2 linked regions of the Homo sapiens genome follow. The protein of the gene in region 2 purifies or fractionates together with the protein of the main gene of each other region. This does not show direct contact. Each region holds a gene or a part of one and is shown on either strand. Other genes may lie near its edges.

What was found.
Region 1: the proteins of COQ8B (region 2) and CLPB purify together in Homo sapiens (affinity purification with mass spectrometry; 2 studies listed by BioGRID and IntAct, with this or other methods). This does not show direct contact.

Annotation. Positions count from the first base shown.
Region 1 is NC_000011.10:72,282,986-72,292,843, forward strand, and holds the end of CLPB (mitochondrial disaggregase), read right to left. Parts: 3' UTR 2,510-9,858; downstream 1-2,509. UniProt on the Homo sapiens protein: Functions as a regulatory ATPase and participates in secretion/protein trafficking process. Has ATP-dependent protein disaggregase activity and is required to maintain the solubility of key mitochondrial proteins.
Region 2 is NC_000019.10:40,711,620-40,722,905, reverse strand, and holds the start of COQ8B (atypical kinase COQ8B, mitochondrial), read left to right. Parts: upstream 1-6,019; 5' UTR 6,020-6,319; intron 6,320-7,786; exon of another isoform or gene 7,787-7,853; intron 7,854-8,270; 5' UTR 8,271-8,273; coding exon 8,274-8,375; intron 8,376-8,508; coding exon 8,509-8,628; intron 8,629-8,772; coding exon 8,773-8,839; intron 8,840-11,286. Other genes in the region: ITPKC (inositol-trisphosphate 3-kinase C), read right to left, coding at 4,616-5,770.

The sequences.
Region 1 (9,858 bases), on a different chromosome or scaffold from region 2:
CTTTTAAAAAATTATTTTACTCTTTTTTTTTGTGTGTGTGGGGGGTGTCTAAGGTGGGGAGCATACTATATAGTGCTTAATCTGCCATACTTTTTTCTCTTTTTTCCTTCCTTTTCCTCGCTTTGCCCTAGTATTTTATGTAGATTGTGTTGGTTGACTTCTCAATTTTGCCCACAGGTTAAAATATATCTAAATAGGGTTATGATAGAACCAGAGGAAGAATGCTCATCACACAGAGATCCTTGATATGGAACAAGTTGTAGCAACTGATGAGACTTTGCTATGTTTATCTTTGTAAGAGTAAATTGCTCTGTGCAAGGGATAGGTGGCATTACGTAGCGTGAAGTTTTTTTTGAAAATACAGGTTTGGGAAGATCTATATTGTTGTTGGGTTAAGTCTGAAGATTCTGAGAATATTTGGAAGAGAGAGATTATAATGATGGGCCCTGAGATTTAAGTGGACTTGGAGAAAGAGGGATCAGATGGGCAATAAGAAGGTTGGGGTTAATGGACTAGAAGTATCAATAAGGTCACAGAATTACACACAGAATGTACTCCAGTTCATATAAGTGAACTGGAAGATGAAAGATAATTGGCTAGAGAGGGATAGGGGCTTCGGAGGAAGTTTAATTACTTGTGATGAAATTTAGACTGTGACCATAACATAGGTGATTTAGGTGGGCAGGGGCAGAAAAAAGACCACTAAATGTGAGGAGAGCAGGGCTTTAGGTCATTCATGGAAGGTTGAAGCCACCAAGAATGATGGCATGTGCTGGGGAAGAGAGAAAGTGACACAGGTACTAAAATCTTCCCTGTGACACAGTGATTGGGAGATCAGTAGGCAGGACAATTAGAGAAAGGCTGGTATAGTCGAACTGATGAATTCAAAAGAGCTGAGAGGAAGGATGAGAACTAATTGAGGAGGAGCAGTGGAGGCTCACTTCTGGGTCTAACAATGAAAGCAGCCTCTGCCTAAGAGGGCTACAGGTAAGCAGTCTTAGGGGACAGCCAGAGTAAGCTGTGTCTTTAGGGGACAGTTAAGATGAAGAAGTGAAGCAAATATTCCAAATACAAGGTGCATATAGAAAAGAATCTACCGATTTTAGAAAGGAAGTGCTGGAGGACACAGTGGAAAGGCTGGAGAGGGAAGCAGTATGTGATGATGTGGTGGTAGATGACCACTGAGGTTAGGGTCAGACTTCTTGGGATTACTATAACGAATCTGTGAGGGATGGTATTAGACTTGAAGACTCTTAAGAGGATGGTGGGCTAATGGTTTCAGGATTGTGGTTGAGGCTATATTCCTTATCTCTGCAACTGATCATGACTCTGGAGGGTCACACTGGTGACTGCCCTCCCTGACCATTCCATATTCCCCTTGTCCTGTGTCACTGCCTTAGACCACTATGGTTTGTTGTCCAGTGGATGACCCAAATCTTCCTCCTTTAAGAATATGAGTCCTTATTACTCCTAGTATCTAATATCTAAGTCAATTAGGACCACAACACTAGAAAAAATTGTAGAAATGCATAAAAGACGAAAATTAATCTGAGAAAATCACTCAGAATGAAGCCTCTTTTTCAAATATACCTACTATTTTTTCTTACTGCCCTTTCTTGCTTTATGTTTTTTAGTCTTCTCTCCATGTCTGAACATTTTAAGATTTTTTTTTTTTTTTTTGAGGCGGAGTCTCGTTCTGTCACCCAGGCTGGAGTGCAGTGGTGTGATCTCAGCTCACTGCAACCTCTGCCTCCTGGTTCAAGCAATTCTCCTGCCTCAGTCTCCCCAGTAGGTGGGATTATAGGCACATGCCACCACACCCAGCTAATTTTTGTATTTTTAGTAGAGATAAGGTTTCACCATGTTGGCCAGGCTGACTTGAACTCCTGACCTCAGGTGATCTGCCTGCCTTGGCCTCCCAAAGTGCTGGGATTACAGGCATGAGCCACTGTACATGGCTGGGATTTCCCATTCTTGGTTTCAAGTCTAGTTGTGTATTAAACTTTCTTGTCTTATTACATATATTAAATATTTCTGTTTGAGGTGGAAGAGAGTTTGCCTGAAATTACTCTCTGTTGTATATTGGTCAGAAGTCATCCCAAATCATTCTACACAATGCAAACAAAGGGTCTTTTAAAACACAAATCTGGTCATTTCATTCCCTTAGCATGGCATTCAGGGCACTTTGAAATCAGGAAACTTGCCTCTCTAGCTTCATTTTCCACCAATTTCCTCTCTTCTCCACACTCATACACAGCTACTATACTCCAGCCACAGACAGTAACCCTTCTCTTTCCTTTCTCTCATAATTGTATTTAGGGTGTGTGTTAATAATAAATTTACATTTTCCCTAATTTTTGCATACTGTCAAGATGGGATTGCAAAAGTAGTAATGACTATTTCCTGAGAGGCTAGACCCAGAAAACAGTAGCTCCATGTAGCATCGCCTCTGGACATAGTAGTGCAGTATGACCTTAACATTATTTAATTAAAAGTGCTGTCAATTAGATTTGTATTAAATTATTTATTAGGTTTACATTAAGTTATATATTAAGAAATGTATATTTTAGTATTAAATCATCCTTTCTAAAACTTGATGTTTTTTCACTTGTCAGGTCTTATTTTTATGCCCTTCAATATGGTTTTCTTGTTAAATTTATTAAGTATAATTTTGAACAGGTAATACATTAATATGGTTCAAAGCTTACTAAAAAGTATTTAAAATAACATAGCAGTGTTCCCCTTCCATTGCTGTCCCTGAATTGCCCAGTTCTGCTCCCTTCCAGAAATAGGTTATGTGTAGAAGAGCAAATATATATATACCTATTTGTTGCAATTGTAAATGGAATGTTTTTCTTTTGATACTGTTTCTAGTTGATTATTGCTAGAATACAGAAAAAACAATTGATTTTTGTACAGTTATCTTTTATTCAGACACTTATCCATGCTAATAGGCTTCTACTATAGCCTTTTTTTTTTTTTTGGAGATAGGCTGGAGTGCAGTGGCACGATCTCATCTCACAGCAACCTCCACCTCCTGAGCTCCAGTTATATTCCCACCTCAGCCTCCCAAGTAGCTGAGACCACAGGTGGATGCCACCACAACCAGCTAATTTTTTGCAGAGATGGGGTTTCACCATGTTGCTCAGGCTGGTCTTGAACTCCTGGGCTCAAGCAGTCCACCTGCCTTGACCCCTCAGTGTTCTGTTGAGATTACAGGTGTGAGATACTGCACCTGTTTTTTTTTTTTTTTTTTTTTTTAAGAGATAGGGTGTCACTCTGCCACCCAGCCTGGAGTGCAGTGGCATGATCATAGCTCACTGTAACCTCATACTCCTAGACTCAAGGAATCTTCCACCTCAGCCTCGAGTAGCTGGGTATACAGGCATGCACTACCATGCCTGGCCTGAAATAACTTTATACTTAAAAGTTGCAAAAACAATACAAAGAATTCATGTACATCATTCCCTCAGATTTCCCAAATGTTAACATCTTTTTTTTGTTTGTTTTTGAGACAGTCTCACTCTGTCATCCAGGCTGGAGTGCAGTGGTGTGATGTAGGCTCACTACAACCTCTGCCTCCAGGTTCAAGGGATTCCTGTGCCTCAGCCTCCCAAATAGCTGGAATTACCGGCATGTGCCACTATGTCCGGCTAATTTTTGTACTTTAATAAAGAGGGGTTTCACCATGTTGTCCAGGCTGGTCTCGAACTCCAGACCTAGGTGATCCACCTGCCTGGGCCTCCCAAAGTGTTGGAATTACAGGTGTGAGCCACCATGCCTTGCCAACACCTTACTTTTTGCTTTATCATTCCGTGTGTGTGTGTGTGTGTGTGTGTGTGTGTGTAGTTATCTGAAATACTGGCAAACCAAATTAGAGGTTTACCTTTAACCTCTAAATACTTACATTTTCTGAAAACAAGGACGTTCTCTTCTGTAATCATAGTATAATTATCAAAATGAGAAAATTTAACAACACTAGCACTCTCTAGACATTTAAATAACATTTAAGTTCTTGATGTAATAAATTAATAAATTTCCTGACACTGAGCCTTGCATTGCTAAAATAAACCTTATGTAATCAGAGTGTGCAATTCAACTTGATTTTATTTGGGATTTTTGCATCTATGGCCATAGGTGAGATTAGGCTATAGCATTCTTTCTGGCACTTTATCAGGTTTGAGTACAATAATAGTTAAAACTCATCTATTTTGGGGGTTGAGTGATGGCTATAGGAGTGTGTTTACTTTGTAATCATTCACTGAGCTGCATACTTGTGATTTGTACAATTTCCCATATATTTTTCAATTAAAAAGTTTAATTAAAAACAATTTTTTATTTTTGGGACATGGTCTCGCTCTGTCACCCAGGCTGGAGTGCAGCAGCACAGTCTTGGCTCACTGCAACCTCTGCCTCCTGGGCTTAAACCATCTTCCCCACCTCAGCCTCCCAAGTAGCTGTTGACTACAGGCAAGCACCATCATGCCTGGCTAATTTTGGTATTTTTAGTAGAGGTGGGGTCTTGCCATGTTGCCCAGGCTGGTCTCAGACTCCGGGGCTCAAGTGATCTGCCTGCCTTGGCCTTCCAAAGTGCTAGGATTACAGGTGTGGGCCACCACCATGCCTGGCCATCAATCTTTTACAAGGATAAAATTTTATTTATTTTTCACCATCTTATGGTGCTCAAAAAGGATAAAATTTTAACCACCTTTCCAGTTTCTTCTTGGGTAACCAACTGGCCTATTCAAACTATTTCTAGGATCAGTGTTTGCTGGGAAATTATCCATTTCCTCTGATTTCAAATTTGTTGCCATAGAGTTCTATTCTTCTTCTCAATTCCTCAATATATATGGTTATGTCTAATTTCTCATGCCTAATTTTGTTAATTTTTTTGGCTCCTTTCCCCTTTTATCAGGCTCAGGAGGTTTTATCTATTTTATTGGTGCTTTCAAAGAATTTTTTAATTTATTCTTTTTCTTTTTCCTACCTTGTTAAGTTTAGCTTTTATCTTTATTGGTCCATTTTCTATTTTTTATGGTTTAAGTGTGTTTCTTTCCTAAATTTCTTTCTTGTTTTTCTTCTTTCACTATATTGAGGAATTTCCCTAAATTTTAAAATCACTACACACCTTTGAGTTTTTCTTTTTGAACAATAAACATGTTACACTTTCATTTCCAAGTCTGGTCTCATGTATTCTAGGATCCTCAATAAGGAATTTGGGGCCGGGTACAGTCGTTGACGCTTGTAATCTCAGCACTCTGGGAGGCCAAGGTGGGTGGATCACTTGAGACCAGGAGTTTGAGACTAGCCTGGCAAACATGGTGAAACCCCGTCTTTACTAAAAATACAAAAAAAATTAGCTGGGTATGGTGGCATATGCCTGTAGTCCCAGCTACTGAGGAGGCTGAGGCATGAGACCTGCTTGAACTGGAGGTGGAGGTTGCAGTGAGCCAAGATTGCACCACCGCACTCCAGCCTGGGCGACAGAGCAAGACTCTGTCTCAAAAAACAAAACAAAACAAAAGAAATCTGGGTCTCACCTTGCTGCATTGTCTCAGAGCTCAAATCCTGGCCACAGCAACATGGGACAAATAAAAATATGCTGAGCAAACAAACAATACTTTTCTGTTCCAGAGCCCACTGAGAAGATCTGCACTTGCTGCAGGTCCCATCCACTCACCCAAGTATAATAATAAAGGAACATCTGTCATATGCCTGCACTGTGCCAGGTTCTGTGAATGGCTGAACAGCTTGGCATCTGCCCTCTTAGAACTTACATTCTAGTGATGAAGACACAGAACAAGTAGGACAAGTGAGCTGAGCCTGGGATGCTATGGAAGTAAAAGATATGGGTCCAACACCACCTAGGAGTTCTGGCAGAGAATCTCTGGAAGAAGTAATTCTTTTTTTGTTTGTTTTTGTTGGAGACGGAGGCTGGCTCTGTCACCAGGCTGGAGTGCAGTGGCACAATTTCGGCTCACTGCAACCTCCACCTCCCGGGTTCAAGCGATTCTCCTGCCTCAGCCTCCCGAGTAGCTGAGACTACAGGCGCCCGCCACCACGCCTGGCTAATTTTTGTATTTTTAGTAGAGATGGGGTTTCACCATGTTGGTCAGGATGGTCTCAATCTCTTGATCTCGTGATCTGCCCCTACATGGCCTCCAGAGTGTTGGGATTACAGGCATGAGCCACCACGCCCGGCCAGAAGTGATTCTTAATTAGGTTCCTTAGAATCTAAGGTTCTACCCCTGTCTCCTTATCCTATTCTCAGGAAGGTGGCCATTGGCTTTTCTTGTATAAAAGTTATCTGATTTTAAGTTATATGCCTAGTATTCCTGGCCACAGTTAACTGAACCAACGGACTGACAGCCGGGCATAAGACCTCTATCTAGTAGGAATACTGCACACAGGCTGGTTACTAGCTGACTTAACTAGAGCCTCTATGGGAAGTCTAAACATCAAATAGAAAGGAGCAGAAACAGAGATAGCAGGAGAAAAAGCAGAAAAAGAATAGTAAGGTTATAAAAATGGCAGTCGCAAACCCTATGGTATTGAATTAAAACCGTATCTAAACTCATGATTTTTATTTATTTTTAAAAATATGAAACGGAGTCTTGCTCTGTCACTCAGGCTGCAGTGCAGTGGTACAATCACAGTTCACTACAGCCTCAACCTTCTGAACTCAAGCGATCCTCCTGCCTCAGCCTCCTACGTAGCTAGGATTACAGGAATGCACCACCATGCCTGGCTAATTTTTTATTTTTTAAACGTTTGGAGGATGAGGTCTTGCTATGATGCGCAGGCTGGTCTTGAACTCCTGGGCTCAAGTGATCCTCCCACTTTGGCCTCCCAAAGTCCTGGGATACAGGCACGAGCCACCATACCTGGCTCACGGTTTTTAATAACATACAGATGGATAGAATAATAAATTCAGGTGCTTGTATTTGCATGTTTTAACATATATACATATATGTTTTCTAGCTCTGTCTGCTGAGCAGGCCTACAAGCAATGACACTCCGCCAATGATACTCTAGCCAGGAGTATATATTCTGTCCAGATCTTGGTTTCCAGTGGCATCAAGAAACAACTTGGTTTCTAAGTTCCTTTTTTCTGGAATAAAAGGAACTGGGAGCTTCTTAGAGAATGACTGATGCCAGGGCTGAGATAGGGAAAATGTGAGGAAGCCTGAAACATCTTGTGGTGCCAGAAAATGCTTAAAAAGTGACAGGGGCAATGTCGAAACAACACAGTGCCAACTTCAATGAGTTCTCACTGGCCAAATCTGAGCCAATTTGAGCAACCAAATAAACTGTTAGCATTAGATTGTAGCCTGTAGAATAAAACAGATATCCACTCATTCATACTGATATAAATTATCAAATAAATAAATGGGGAAAAGGGACAGCTCTTCCTTATAGTAGAATACCAATTAATAAATACAGGTAAAATAATGAAACAAAGTCACCATTAGGCAAGCATAACATTAATACCTGTTATAAGCAAGAATCATTGATGATGGAAATGAAAATCAGTAGGCAAAATTTTAAGAATAAGACATTCACATAGCTTCAAAGTGGAAGATTCTTGTTAATTTCAAAGGGAAAATTCCTAATTTTACAGTGGAGAAACCTGGCACACACCACCTTAGCCATGTGATCAAAGTTACCACCACCTAGTCTAGGTGTGGTGGCTCATGCCTGTAATCTCAGCACTTTGGGAGGCCGAGGTGGGTGGATCACCTGAGGTCAGGAGTTCAAGACCAGCCTGGCCAACATGGCGAAAACCTGTCTCTACTAAAAATACAAAAATTAGCTGGGTGTGGTGGTGGGCACCTGCAATCCCAGCTACTCAGGAGGCTGAGGCAGGAGAATCACTTTGAACCCAGGAGGCAGAGGTTGCAGTGAGCCGAGATTGCGCCACTGCACTCCATCCTGGGTGACAGAGCGGGACTCCGTCTCAAAAAAAAAAAAAAAACCAAAACAAAAAGTTACCACCACCCTCCGCTAGGAGGCACTAAGAATAGCACAGTATCACTTCTGTGGTTGTCTTGGCAAAAATGCAGATCCTCAATCATATCATGTAAAAACATTAAACAAACTAAAACTGGGGAATATTCTATAAAATAACTGGCCTGGACTCTTCCAAAGTGTCAAGGTCATGAAAGATAAAGACCAAGAAACTGTCACAGGCTGACAGAGATGAAGGAAACACCACAACAAAATGCAATATGGGACCCTGGACCAGACAAAGGACATCATCGGGAAAACTGGCAAAATTTGAATGTCCGTAGATTAGTTAGTAGTAGTTTATCAATGTTAACTTCCTGGTTTTCTTTTTTTGAGACGGAGTCTCACTCTGTCGCCCAGGCTGGAGTGCAGTGGCGTGATTTCAGCTCACTGCAACCTCCGCCTCCTGGGCTCAAGTGATTCTCCTGCCTCAGCCTCCCAAGTAGCTGGGATTACAGGTGGGCACCAGCGGGCCTGGCTAATTTTTGTATTTTTAGTACAGACAGGGTTTCACCATGTTGGCCAGGCTGGTCTCGAACTCCTGACCTCAGGTAATCTGCCTGCCTCAGCCTCCCAAAGTGCTGGAATTACAGGCATGAGCCACCACACCCGGCAATTTCCTGGTTTTGATAAACTACAGTATGGCTTTGTAGGATGTAATCATTGGGAGATGCTAGATGAAAGATACATGGGAATTTTCTACTATTTCTGCAACTTTCTCTAAGTCTAAAATTATTTCAAAACAAAAAGTAAAAAACAATGAAAAGCAGGCCGGGTCCAGTGGCTCATGCCTGTAATCCCAGCACTTTGGGAGGCCGAGGCAGGCAGATCACAAGGTCAGGAGATTGAGACCATCCTGGCTAACATGGTGAAACCCTGTCTCTACTAAAAATACAAAAAGGTAGCCGGGCGTGGTGGTGGGCACCTGTAGTCCCAGCTACTCGGGAGGCTGAGGCAGGAGAATGGCGTGAACCTGGGAGGCAGGGCTTGCAGTGAGCCGAGATCGCGCCACTGCACTCCAGCTTGGGGGACAGAGTGAGACTCTGTCTCAAAAAAAAAAAAAAAAAAAAAAAGGCAGTCAGTGAGGTAGGGAGCAGCAGCCCCTGAGGGGTAGACAGTGATCCAAGCATCTGCTGGAGCTCACACCCTGGATTCTGACTGCCTCATACCCACCATACTGTTAGGACATGCTTCCATTACCCAAGGGACTTTGATTCCTGGCCCCATTCTCTGCTTCCTGAAAGACTAGCTAACACTACGCGAGGGTTCCATGAAGGGCCTGTGGGGGAAGGTGGGTGGACTGCTTATCAGCAGTGGCTACTGTAGATGGTGCCCAAGGATGCACCAGGCCTTACTGTGCCTGGCTAAGGTGGGCTTGAAACATTGGCTGGTCTGTGAAATGCCCTTGGGGGACGGTGTCCAGACCCTCTGCTTTGTGACTAACATGCAGACTGAATAAACTGCATGTTTATTCCAGGCTCGTTTAGCTGGACGAGCAGTACAGACAGGGCTGAGGCTGACTCCATGGCCATGTGGGCAGAGGTCAAACCCATGATCTCTCTTCCTACAGCTTCCTAATGTCTGCGATGTTGGTCTTTTGAAGGAGGCCCCCACAGAGCTGAGCTTGCTTGGTTATCTGGGACTGCTGCTCAGTCTGAGTAGGGGAGGGTAATGAACCAGTCAGGCCTCCTCCTGGAGGTGCCCAACACTGGCCTAGTCCCCAAGGCTGACGAAACATGGTCTGGCCTGACCCCAGGACGTGGGGTGAGGAGGAACACTGGGCATAATATAGTAGCGGAAACAGGCAAGCCTCTATGGGTCCCTTCCCCTTAGAATTTTAGGGTAGGGAAC
Region 2 (11,286 bases):
ACTCAGGAGGCTAAGGTGGGAGGATCACTTGAGCCCTGGAGGGTGAGGCTGCAGTGAGCAGTGATTGTGCCACTGCACTCCAGACTGGGTGACCCAGTGAGACCCTGACTCAAAAAAATAAGAAAGAAAGAAAGAAAACCAGAGAAGCAAATAGAAAACAGGGTTTTCGTTGTATCATGCCGACTAAACTATGAGCTTTTTGAGACAGGGTTAGTGTCTGATTCATGAACACATACACACACAGGAATACATTCTGCACCCCACAAGCATGTCAAGTCCCTTAGCAAGTACTGGAAGAGTGGGTCACCTCCAGAGAAGGAAACTGTATGGCTCATCCCTCTCCTACCCCAGGATCAGGGACGTGTTCATCTCTCCCGCCCCCTCAGAGCCCAGCTACCTCACAGACATCTCTTTGACAGTGGGAAGGTTAAGAGGGAGTCAGGGTTCGGGAAGGGCTAGTCCCTCCCCAATCCAGCTGCCGGCCCTGGGGAAGAGATGATTAATAAAGGTTCCTGTTTACTAAGTACCTGGAACATTCCAGACACAATGACAAAGACTCAGTGTGCCACAACCTACTTAATTTCTAAAAACACAACCCCAGGGAGATTATCGTCTCGGTGTTACAAAGGAGGAAACAGAGGGTCTGAGAGGTGAAGCCACTTACCTAACATCACCCCACACAGCGCTGGGGTTCTAGCTCTGGTTGGATCCCAGTGCCTTGGGGCTTATCCCCTACACACTTGCTGGACTACAAGCTCATGATGGCAGAGACTGGGGTTGTCATGGTTATGATTATGTCCCCAGCACATGGCCTGGCACACGACAGACGCTCCAGAAACATTCTTTGATGCTTGGACTGAAGAATGTTAGTTGGGATTTTTTTAATAGTAATTTTTTTTTTTTTTGAGACAGGATCTCACTCTGTTGCCCAGGCTGGAGTGCAGAGGTGTGATCTTGGCTCACTGCAACCTCTGCCTCCCAGGCTCAAGCAATCCTCCTGCTTTAGCCTCCCGAATAGCTGGAAAACAGGCATATACCACCACATCTAGCTAGTTCTTTTTTCCTTTTAGTAGAGATGAGGTCTCACTGTGTTGCCCAGGGTGGTCTCAAATTTCTGGGCTCAGGCAATCCTCCCACCTCAGCCTCCCAAAGTGCTGGGATTATAGGCATAAGCCACCACACCTGGCCCCTTAATCATAAACATAATATCTTCTCTCTCTGTTTTATGTTAGATCCGGGCCGGGCACAGTGGCTCATGCTTGTAATCCCAGCACTTTGGGAGGCTGAGGTGGGTGGATCACCTGAGGTCAGGAGCTCAGAACCAGCCTGGCCAACATAGTGAAACCCACTCTCTACTAAAAAAAAAAATTAGCCGGGCGTGGTGGCGTGCGCTTGTAGTCCCAGCTACTTGGGAGGCCGAGGCAGGAGAATCACTTGAACCCGGGAGGCTGAGGTTGCAGTGAACTGAGATCTCGCCACTGCACTTCAGCCTAGGCAACAGAGTGAAACTCCGCACTGCACGCCCTCCAAAAAAAAAAAAAAAGTTAGATCCAATGGTTTATCTGGGCTTTCTCGGATTTTTTTCACAATGGTCTCAGCTTATATGCCCCTTCCTCCAGGAAGCCCTCTCTGATACCCTGTGTCTGGCCAGTGACCTCCTTCTGGGCTCACACATCCTCCTGACCACTCTGAACTGTGACTGTCGGCTGATTGGTCTGTCTCTTTCATGGGCCTGGGAGCTCCATGAGTGTCTTGGTCACTGCTGTTTCCCCAGCAAAGCTAACATAGGACCAAATACATGGTAGGGGCTTAGGGAGTGATTTTTGTCTCATTAGAAGAATAGGATAGCACACCTGTAATCCCAGCACTTTGGGAGGCTGAGGCAGGAGGATCACTTGAGCCCAGGAGTTCAAGACCAGCCTGGGCAAGATAGCAAGACCCCATCCCTACCAAAAAAAGAAAAAGAAAGAGAACACAATTTTAAAAAAAGGACAGGATGGTGAGAAGGAAGGAAGGAGGAAAGGGAGAAAGGAAGCTGAGCCTTTACGGTCAGAGAGGATTTCAAAATTAAGGGAGAAGGAAGCACGGGTATGCTGGGCAGTGGGAACGGCTTGAGCAATGCGTGGAGGCAGGACAACAGAAGAGTGTTCAAGGAACAGTGTGTACTCAGGCCTAGTTACAGCAGAGGGGGTCAGGAGGAGGGAAGGAAGTCGATTCTGGGAAGGCGCCTGGAGACCGGAGGCTCCAAACGCAGCACTGAGCCCCTGACTGCTCTCAGAGAGGGCACCTGAGCAGACAAAGCTGGGCCATGGAGGCAGATTCTGGAAGGATGAGAAAAAAACTGGAGATAGGGAGGCCTGGGAGGGAGACAAGTTAGGAACAGATCTACACACTGGAGGGTTTAAACGATGGGTTTGAAACTCAGCCAGAACTGAGTTAGAATCCTGGCTCTGACTTGACGTGGCCAACCCTAAGCAAAGAATCTCTCACCTCTCTATGCCTCAGCTTCCCCATCTGTTGTTTTTGTTTTTTTTTTTTTGAGACCGAGTCTTGCTCTGTCACCCAGGCTGGAGTGCAGTGGTGCAATCTCGGCTCACTGCAACCTCCGCCTCCCACATTCAAGCGATTCTCCTGCCTCAGCCTCCCAAGTAGCTGGGATTACAGGTGCCCGCCATCACACGCCTGGCTAATTTTTGTATTTTAGTAGAGACAGGGTTTCATCATGTTGGCCAGGCTGGTCTTGAACTCCTGACCTTAGGTGATCCCCCTGCCTCGGCCTCCCAAAGTGCTGGGATTACAGGCTTGGGCCACTGAGCCTGGCCCCCATCTGTTGAATGGAGACAATCTCAGTGCTGTCATAAGGACTCAGAGTTAACACATACAAAGCCCTTAATTAAGATAGATGCTATTTTAAGATAAAAAATGACAGAAAAAAATTGACAAAAAAGACTAAAAAAAAAAAAGAAGAAAAAACTTAAAACAGTGTCTGGTGTACAGTAAGGATTAGAATTATTTGATCTGCATCTTGCAAGGTGATATCCTTGGACAAGTGACTTGAATTCTCTGTGCCTCAGTTTCCTCATCTGTAAAAGGGGATAATAATAGTATCTACCTCAGCCGGGTGCAGTGGCTCATGCTGGTAATTCCAGCACTTCGGGAGGCTGAGGCGGGTGGATCACTTGAGGTCAGGAGTCTTGAGGTCAGCCTGGCCAACATGATGAAACCCTGTCTCTACTCAAAATACAGAAATGAGCCAGGTGTGGTGGCGGGCACCTGGTGTCTCACCTACTCAGGAGGCTGAGGCAGGACAATCACTTGAACCCAGGAAGTGAAGGCTGCAGTGAGCCGAGATGGCACCACTGCACTCCAGCCTGGGCAACAGAGCGAGACTGTCTCAGAAAAAAAAAAAAAGTATCTACCTCATTAGGGTTGCTGCGAGGAGTGAGTGAGTTAATAAAAGCACAGCACTTAGCACAGGGCTAAACATGAGTGAGTGCTAATTGTTGTTGTTATTATTATTATTATTATTATTATTATTCACCCACTTCCAGCTCAGCTGTTCTGAGATGCCAAGGAAGTGAGAGGGCAGGCAGAGAGAAAAAAGCAATGGGGCCCAGGAGGGTCAGCCCCTGCACACAGGCACAGGCACGTCAAGGCAGGTCTGTCTCTCACAGCTAGGGCCACATGTGTGAACACGTCCCCAAGGAAGGCATGTGGGGTGAAGCGGGGCTCAGGGCAGACTCCAGCCAGGGGCCCCAGAGCAAAAAGAGGCCTCAGCAGGCAAGCTGGCAAGCTGATGGACTCCGGACTCGGCTCCCAGCCCCACGGCTCCCAGCCCCACGTGAGGCTCTCCAGTTTCACACCGGCCTCTGCTCTGTCCCGCCCTCCCTGAACCTGCCCGGCCGGTCCTCCTGATTCACCAGGGGAGAGCCACACCCAAGCTGGGGGTGACGGTGGACAAAGTAAACAAGAGTGTTCAGGGGGCTCCTTGGGGATGTAGGGGTCACAGGGGAGACCAGGTGGGCTCCCGGCTAGGCCAAGGATCCTTTGGCGTTTGGGGTCACACAGCCCTTTTGCGAATCTGATGCAAGCTGGGGGAATCGCTTTGCTCCCTAGAAAAATGTACATACAAATAGGCTAAGGGGTGGTGAAGGTTTGTGACCCTTTAAGACAGCCACAGGCCCCAGATTAAGAAATGTGGGGTAGAAAGTGCACCCTGCCTGTCTCCCTATCCCAGTGTTCTTCAGATTCCAGAGGATTAGACAGATGTCAGACCGTCGCTGCAACAATGTATGTGAACACGCACGGCAGGCTCCTTAGTCCTACAATTTCAGGGGTTCCTGGGCCCCATAAAGTCGGTCAGTGGCCCTCCATTGTAGACCCCCAGGAGTGGAGACAGTGCAGGAAGGGGAAAGGAGAGAATTAAGAAGGGGTGCCTGGAGTGAATTAGTAACCTGGCTGTCAGAGGGAGGAGGTCAGTGGATGGAAGAGGTTCCCGGAGATGAAATTGCTGGTGGGCAACTAACAGTAAATGGGTAGAGAACTTCCTAAGCAAAGGCGGAGGAATAAGGAGTTTTGCGTGATGTGGCTCAAGGGCAGGATGGGTCCCACTCACCCCAGACCTGTCCTCGGGATCGCTGGCACCTCCGCCCCCGGCCACCACGTCATCCTCAGACTCGTCGAAAGAAGAGGCAGAGGAGAAGCCGCCGCTGCCCCCCTCAACCCGGGAGGGGGGTCCCACTGGCTGGGCCTCAGGCTCAGGGGTCTCAGGGGTAATGATGAGGCGGGGCACAGGGCACAGGGGGCTACACTTCAGGTGAGAGTACAGGTGAGTCAGCAATTCTCCAGGCTCTGGTTCCTCTAATGGGCCATCCTCAGGCTCTCCCAAGAGGCAGTCTGTCCCAGGTGCTGTCTGGGAACCGTCAGTGCTAGGTTGTGTCCAGGAGCCATCAGTATCCTGTTGTATTTGGAAACCACCAGTGCCAGGCTGTTTCCTGGCTGCTTCAGTATCCTGTTTTTTCTGGGAGCCATCAGTATATGGCTCTGTCCAGGGACCTTCAATATCCTGTTGTGTCCTGGAGCCATCAGTATACAATTCTTTCCAGGAGCCATCAGCACTTGGCTCTTTTGAGGGACAGGCTCCTTCTGGGTGAGTCTGGAGGCTGGAACTGTTCTGGTGGGTCCAGAGGTTATCAGCCCAGGACTTGACCCTCTCTGGCTGAGTCTGTGACCCATGCGTTTCCAGCTCTGTCCAGGGCCCATGAACCCCTGGCTGTGTCCAGGGGCTGGCCTCCTCGGGCTGAAACTGGAGGTCGGACCTGTGCGGATCAGTCCAAAGGCCATCTGTCCCGGTCTCCGTCCAAAGACAAGTCGTCTCCAGCTCTGACCAGCTCCATTCTAGATGCGTCCGGAGGCTGGACCTGTCTGGCTCCGTCTTTTGCTTGGGCCTCTCGGTCTCTACTCCAAGGCCAGCTGCCGCGGGCTCAGTCTGTCCGTCTGTCCAGAATTCTGCCTGCGGACTCTCTGTCCCCGGCGCAGGCCCGAGGCCGGCCCTCTCAGGCTCGCTGTGGAGGCTGGACCCCTCTGTCCGGGCCCAGGGCCCGCCCCCCTCCGGCCGCCCCGCCGGGGCCCCTGCGCCGGGCCCAGGTCGCTGCTGTCCCGGCTGCCGCCGCCGCCCTCCTCGCGGCGCCTCCAGTCCCATGCGGGCCGCCGCGGGCAGCGCCCCGGCCTCCGCCTCGTTCAGGCTCCCACGGCACGGGCAGCGCCTCATGCCCGCTCCTTCGGTTCGGGCTTCGGCCGACCCGGCCCCTCCTATCCCTTTAAATCCCGCGAGGGGTGTGGCTGGGGAGCCCCGACTCCCGGGTTCCGGCCCGCGGAGCTCCAGCCCGCCCCGCCGCGCAAGGGTTAACCGATACTCCCCTCAAAGGGGAAAGCCCCGAAGCCCCGCCCCACCGGACGTGACGGAACGGAACGAGACGGAGCCTTGTCCGACTCCGCCTCCCAAGGGGAGGGGGTTTGCCTCTGAGCATCCGAAGCGCGGCCAGGTATGCATCTAGGGCACCGGGGTCCTGGTGGCGCGCCAGTGGGCCCCCTCCCTCCACCCCTGTGACTAAACCACCCTCCCTACACGGTTGAATGACAAGTTCAACCTTCCCTAAAACCCCCGGTGACGAGTCCAGCCGCGCGCCCATTCTTCACGCAGGGGCGGGACGGACTTTCAAAGACTTGGAGTTCCCACGGGTGTGGGTTCGAGACCTTCCTCTGCCAGTTCCCAGCTCCGCTACCCTGAGCAAATGACTTACGCTCCATTGGATTTTCCGTAAGAAATCTCTGTCATGTATAGAGTACTTGTTCTGTATCAGACCCTGACACGATTTCAGTTCATTCTCCAAGGCTGAACAATAGGGATGCCAGGGCTCCATTTTACACGTGAGAACAGAGGCTCAGAGATCTGCCGGCCTCTACCCTTTGCTTGCAGCTACGGGGCTATCTGACATGATCTCATGTATGTGAAGCATGTGGCCCCGGGCCTGGCACTGTCAGTTGTAGCCCAGTAGGATTATTTATTGTCCTAGGTGATTTTGATATATTTTGCCCCCAAGGCTGAGCTGCCACCCAGCTCCTGAGTCAGCCGTTCACCTCTGAAGGGGGAGAGGAGGTGGTTTGTCTTGAAATTGAGTCAACTGGGGGAGACATTGGGCACAGGTCCAAGGCTCTAAAATGAGTCACCTTTTCACAGACCAATGAGAGAAATCGAAGGCAGGAGCCCACCTAGTACCTCATACAGGTTGGGAAGGAGAAGTCCAGAGAGGGATGAGGGCTTTTCTGAGGTCACACAGTACGGGAATAGAGACAAAGAGGCCTGATTCCCGACAAGAGGGGTTGGGGCAGCGGGGTTCTGTGGGGGAAGCATCGGCATCCCTCCCTCTCCCAGTGGTGGGAAAGATGCCCCAACCAGATGCCTCTATTCCAGACTGTGAGAAGTGGGTGAGTCAGCCTGTTGTGGGGAGAGCAGGCTTTCCAACGCGCGCGCGCACACACACACACACACACACACACAGAGAAAGAAAGATAGGATGGGAGGTGGTTTTCTGGGATGCCAAGGTTCCTGACTCAGCACTGGGAATCTTGGCTGAGTGTGTTCTGGGAAATGTCAGGCCTACAGGAAGCAGAGGGCTCCCAGTCGCACCATTCCGCAGGTGGGCGGGGAGCGGAGAGAACAGGGTGTGTGAGGGAACAGAGACTCAGTGTGCAAGTGGGGGGGAGGGTATGTACACGAGAGAGTTGAAGGCGTGAGCGGGAAACAGTTGGCAAGCAAGGCAAGGGATTTATATGCACAAGGAAGGAGGTTGGGTGCCAGAATGTGGGTGTTTGTGCAAAGTGGAGGGGCTCCATGTGCAAGGGAAATGTTTGCTGGGAAGAATGTGTATTCAAAGGAATTGTGTTGAGCCTGCCAGGGGTAAAAATAAGAAGGGGGGTTGGCAAGATATTCGTGCAGAAGAGAGGCGTCAGGTTTGTAAGGGAGACTTTGCAAGAAAGTGTAGGGAACAGAAGGGTCTGTCGCGTACAAGGCACTTTGAGGTGAGTGGAAGGGCAGACAGGGCACGCTTGCGCTCCCGCGATGCCTCAGCAATCCCCCCAGATGGGCCCCCGATGCCCACCTTAATTCCAGGCTCCATCGCTAGGGCCTCTCTCTGGCCCCTTCCCCCGCGCACAGATGGAGAAACTCCGTGCCAGTCAGCGAGTTGCTGCCGCGCCATTGGTTGGCTGGCCGAAGGGGGCGGGCATACAGAGGCTCCCGGAAGCACAGGAGGGCCCCAGCAGGTTGCGGACTCGGAGGCTGAGAGCAGTGGGTGCTTAGCAACGGGGGGAGGTGCTCAGTAACGGGGTGGGGATCGGGCGGGGGGACACCGGAGGAATTGCGGGTGCCTACAGGGCCAACAGAGGGGAAGGCGGTGCATAGCAACGAGGGGGGTTTCAGAGAAGTGGAGAGGTAGCCCCTGAGGAACTGTGGGTGTCTAGTAACGGGGGCGGACCCTAGCAACGGCGAGGGTTGGGAGAGGGGGGAAAGTGGGTTTTGGGAGGCCTGCAGGAAGAGCTAAGGGTTCCTAGCAACCAGGGGAGAACCAGGAGAAACTGTGGGAATCTATTAATAGTGGAGGAAGTATTTAGTGGGTGGGAATGAGAGAGGGTGGACACAGAGGAACATGGGGGCCTGGCCAAGAAGCCAGGCAACTCCCACCTGAATAATCCCTCCTCTTCTCCTCCAGGCAATGTGGCTGAAGGTGGGGGGCCTACTTCGGGGGACCGGTGGACAGCTGGGCCAGACTGTTGGTTGGCCTTGTGGGGCCCTGGGGCCTGGGCCCCACCGCTGGGTAAGAGGCTAGGGAGCAGGTCCCCAAGGGGAAGAGGCTGAGGGAGACTTCAGAGGGTAAAAGGACAGGAGGGGTCCAGAAGGGCCAGGTGATCCCATGTCCTCCCCTCCTTATCAAAGTATATCTCTTGCAGGGACCATGTGGAGGTTCTTGGGCCCAAAAGTTTTACCAGGATGGGCCTGGGAGAGGCCTGGGTGAGGAGGACATTCGCAGGGCACGGGAGGCCCGTCCCAGGAAGACACCCCGGCCCCAGGTATCATTACCCCCACCCACCCAGCAACACCCCACGAATACTGCTGGCCCCCTGAGCTTGGGGAAGGGTGTGGTGGCAGAGTGGCTGCACTCTCTGGCCACGATGCCCACTTTCCCACCCTCAGACCTTGTCCCCATTTCCCAGCTGAGTGACCGCTCTCGAGAACGCAAGGTGCCTGCCTCCCGCATCAGCCGCTTGGCCAACTTTGGGGGTAGGTGTGACTTTGGGGGATCTTGGTGTGACCTCAATTAGAAAGGGCAACATTTACAGATTGAAGCAAGGGAGAGGATGAATCAGAGACAGGAAAGAGAGAGAGACAAAAAAAGAGAGACAAAGGCAAGGGCCTGCAAGGCCAAGAGAAATCAAGAGGAACATAAATGATAATTTTTTTTTTTTTTTTTGAGACAGAGTCTCACTTTGTCACCCAGGCTGGAGTGCAGTGGCGCGATCACTGCAGCCTCAAACTTCTGGGCTCAAGCAATTCTCTCGCCTCAGCCTCCTGAGTAGCTGGGACCACAGTTGTGCACCATCCGCCCGGGTAATTTTTTTTTTTTTTTCCTTTGAGACAGAGTCTCGCTCTGTTGCCCAGGCTGGAGTGCAGTGGCACCGTCTTGGCTCATTGCAACCTCTGCCTCCTACATTCAAGCAATTCTCCTGCCACAGCCTCCTGAGTAGCTGGGATTACAGGTGCCTGCCACTATGCCTGGCTATTTTTTTTTTTTTTTTTTTGAGACGGAGTATCCCTCTGTCACCCAGGCTGGAGTGCAGTGGCGCCATCTTGGCTCACTGCAACCTCCACCTCCCGGGTTCAAGCCGATTCTCCTGCCTCACACTCCCAAGTAGCTGGGATTACAGGCATGCATCCACCACACCCGGCTAATTTTTGTATTTTTAGTAGAGACGGGGTTTCACCATGTTTGTCAGGCAGTGGTAGAGCTTTGGCACCAGGCTGCCCAGGGTTCAAGGGATGACTCTGCTATGTCCTCGCTTTGTGATCCGCCTGCCTCAGCCTTCCCAAGTGCTGGGATTACAGGCGTGAGCCACCACACCTGGCCGCCTGGCTAATTTTTGTACTTTTAGTAGAGACAGAATTTCACCATGTTGGCCAGGCTGGTCTTGAACTCCTGACCTCAAGTGATCCACCCACTTCGGCCTCCCAAAGTGTTGGGATTTACAGATGTGAGCCACGGTGCCCGGGAAGCCACTGTGCCTGGCCTGGGTAATTTAAAAAATATTTTTTTGTAGAGATAGGGTCTCCCTATGTTGCTCAAGTTGGTCTCAAGCGATCCTCCTGCCTCGGCCTCCCGAAGTGCTGGGGTTCTAGGCATGAGCCACTGCTCCTGGCCATAATAACATTTACTGAGAACCTGTAATGTGCAGTGTCCCATATACACACATGCTGCACTGAATCAATGAGTGTTCTATTCCGTACATGAGGACATTGAGGCTAACAAAGGGGAGGTCACTTGACTTTGGGTTACACAGCCGGATGTCGTGCAAGTCACATGAAATAATTTAGTGGGTTGCAACCAGCATTTAAAAAGAAGAATAGGACAGAAAATATGCATGCACCTGTAGAGCAAGGGAAAGTCTTGTTTCGTGAAACATATACCTTGGTCTGCACTGGTTATAACGTAAATGTCTTCTTATTGCTGATCATGGTTCAAGTTTTGTTTTTGTTTTTGTTTTTGAGATGGAGTCTTGCTCTGTCACCCAGACTGGAGTGCAGTGGCATGATCTCAGCTCACTGCAACCTCCACCTCCCAGGTTCAAGCAATTCTCCTGCCTCAGCCTCCTGAGTAGCGGGGGTTACAGATGCACGCCACCACGTCCAACTATTTTTTGTTGTTTTTTTTTTTTTTTTTCTTAGGGAGACAGGGTTTCACCATGTTGGCCAGGATGGTCTCGATCTCCTGACCTCATGATCCGCCTGCCTTGGCCTCCTAAAGTGCCAGGATTACAGACGTGAGCCACTGTGCCTGACCGCTAATTTCTGTATTTTTAGTAGAGATGGGGTTTCACCATGTTGGTCAAGCTGATCTCGAACTCCTCACCTCGTGATCCACCTGCCTCAGCCTCCCAAAGTGCTGGGATTATAGGCGTGAGCTACCATGCCCCGCCTGGTTCAAGTTTTAAAAATATAGATTCACTTGCTTGTACCCAGGAGGTAGAGATTGCAGTGAACCAAGATCGCACCATTGCACTCCAGCCTGGGCAGCAAGAGTGAAACTCTGTCTCAAAAAAAAAAAATCTATATATATATACATAGATAGATTCACAGTCTGCAGAGGCAGTCAAAGGCACTGGTTAGAGCTTTGGCACCAGGCTGCCCAGGGATTAAGGGATGACTCTGCTGTGTCCTCGCTTTGTGACGTGACTCTGGGCAAATTACTTCACTTCTCTGAACCTCAATTTCCTTTTCTGTAAAATGGAAGTTTTCTGTAAAATACATTTTATGAAGGTGGAGACCTCATGTAAGGACAAAAATTAGTAAGTGCACAGAAGGCACTGGGAACAGCCCCTGACATGTAGAAAGGACACAGAAAATGCCAGATATGGTAATTGACAGAGATGGTGACAACAAAAGAAGGAGAGAGACCCGAGACGTCTTTAGGGACAAGAGGAGAGGTAGCAGAGGAAATCAGAGATGGAGAGATA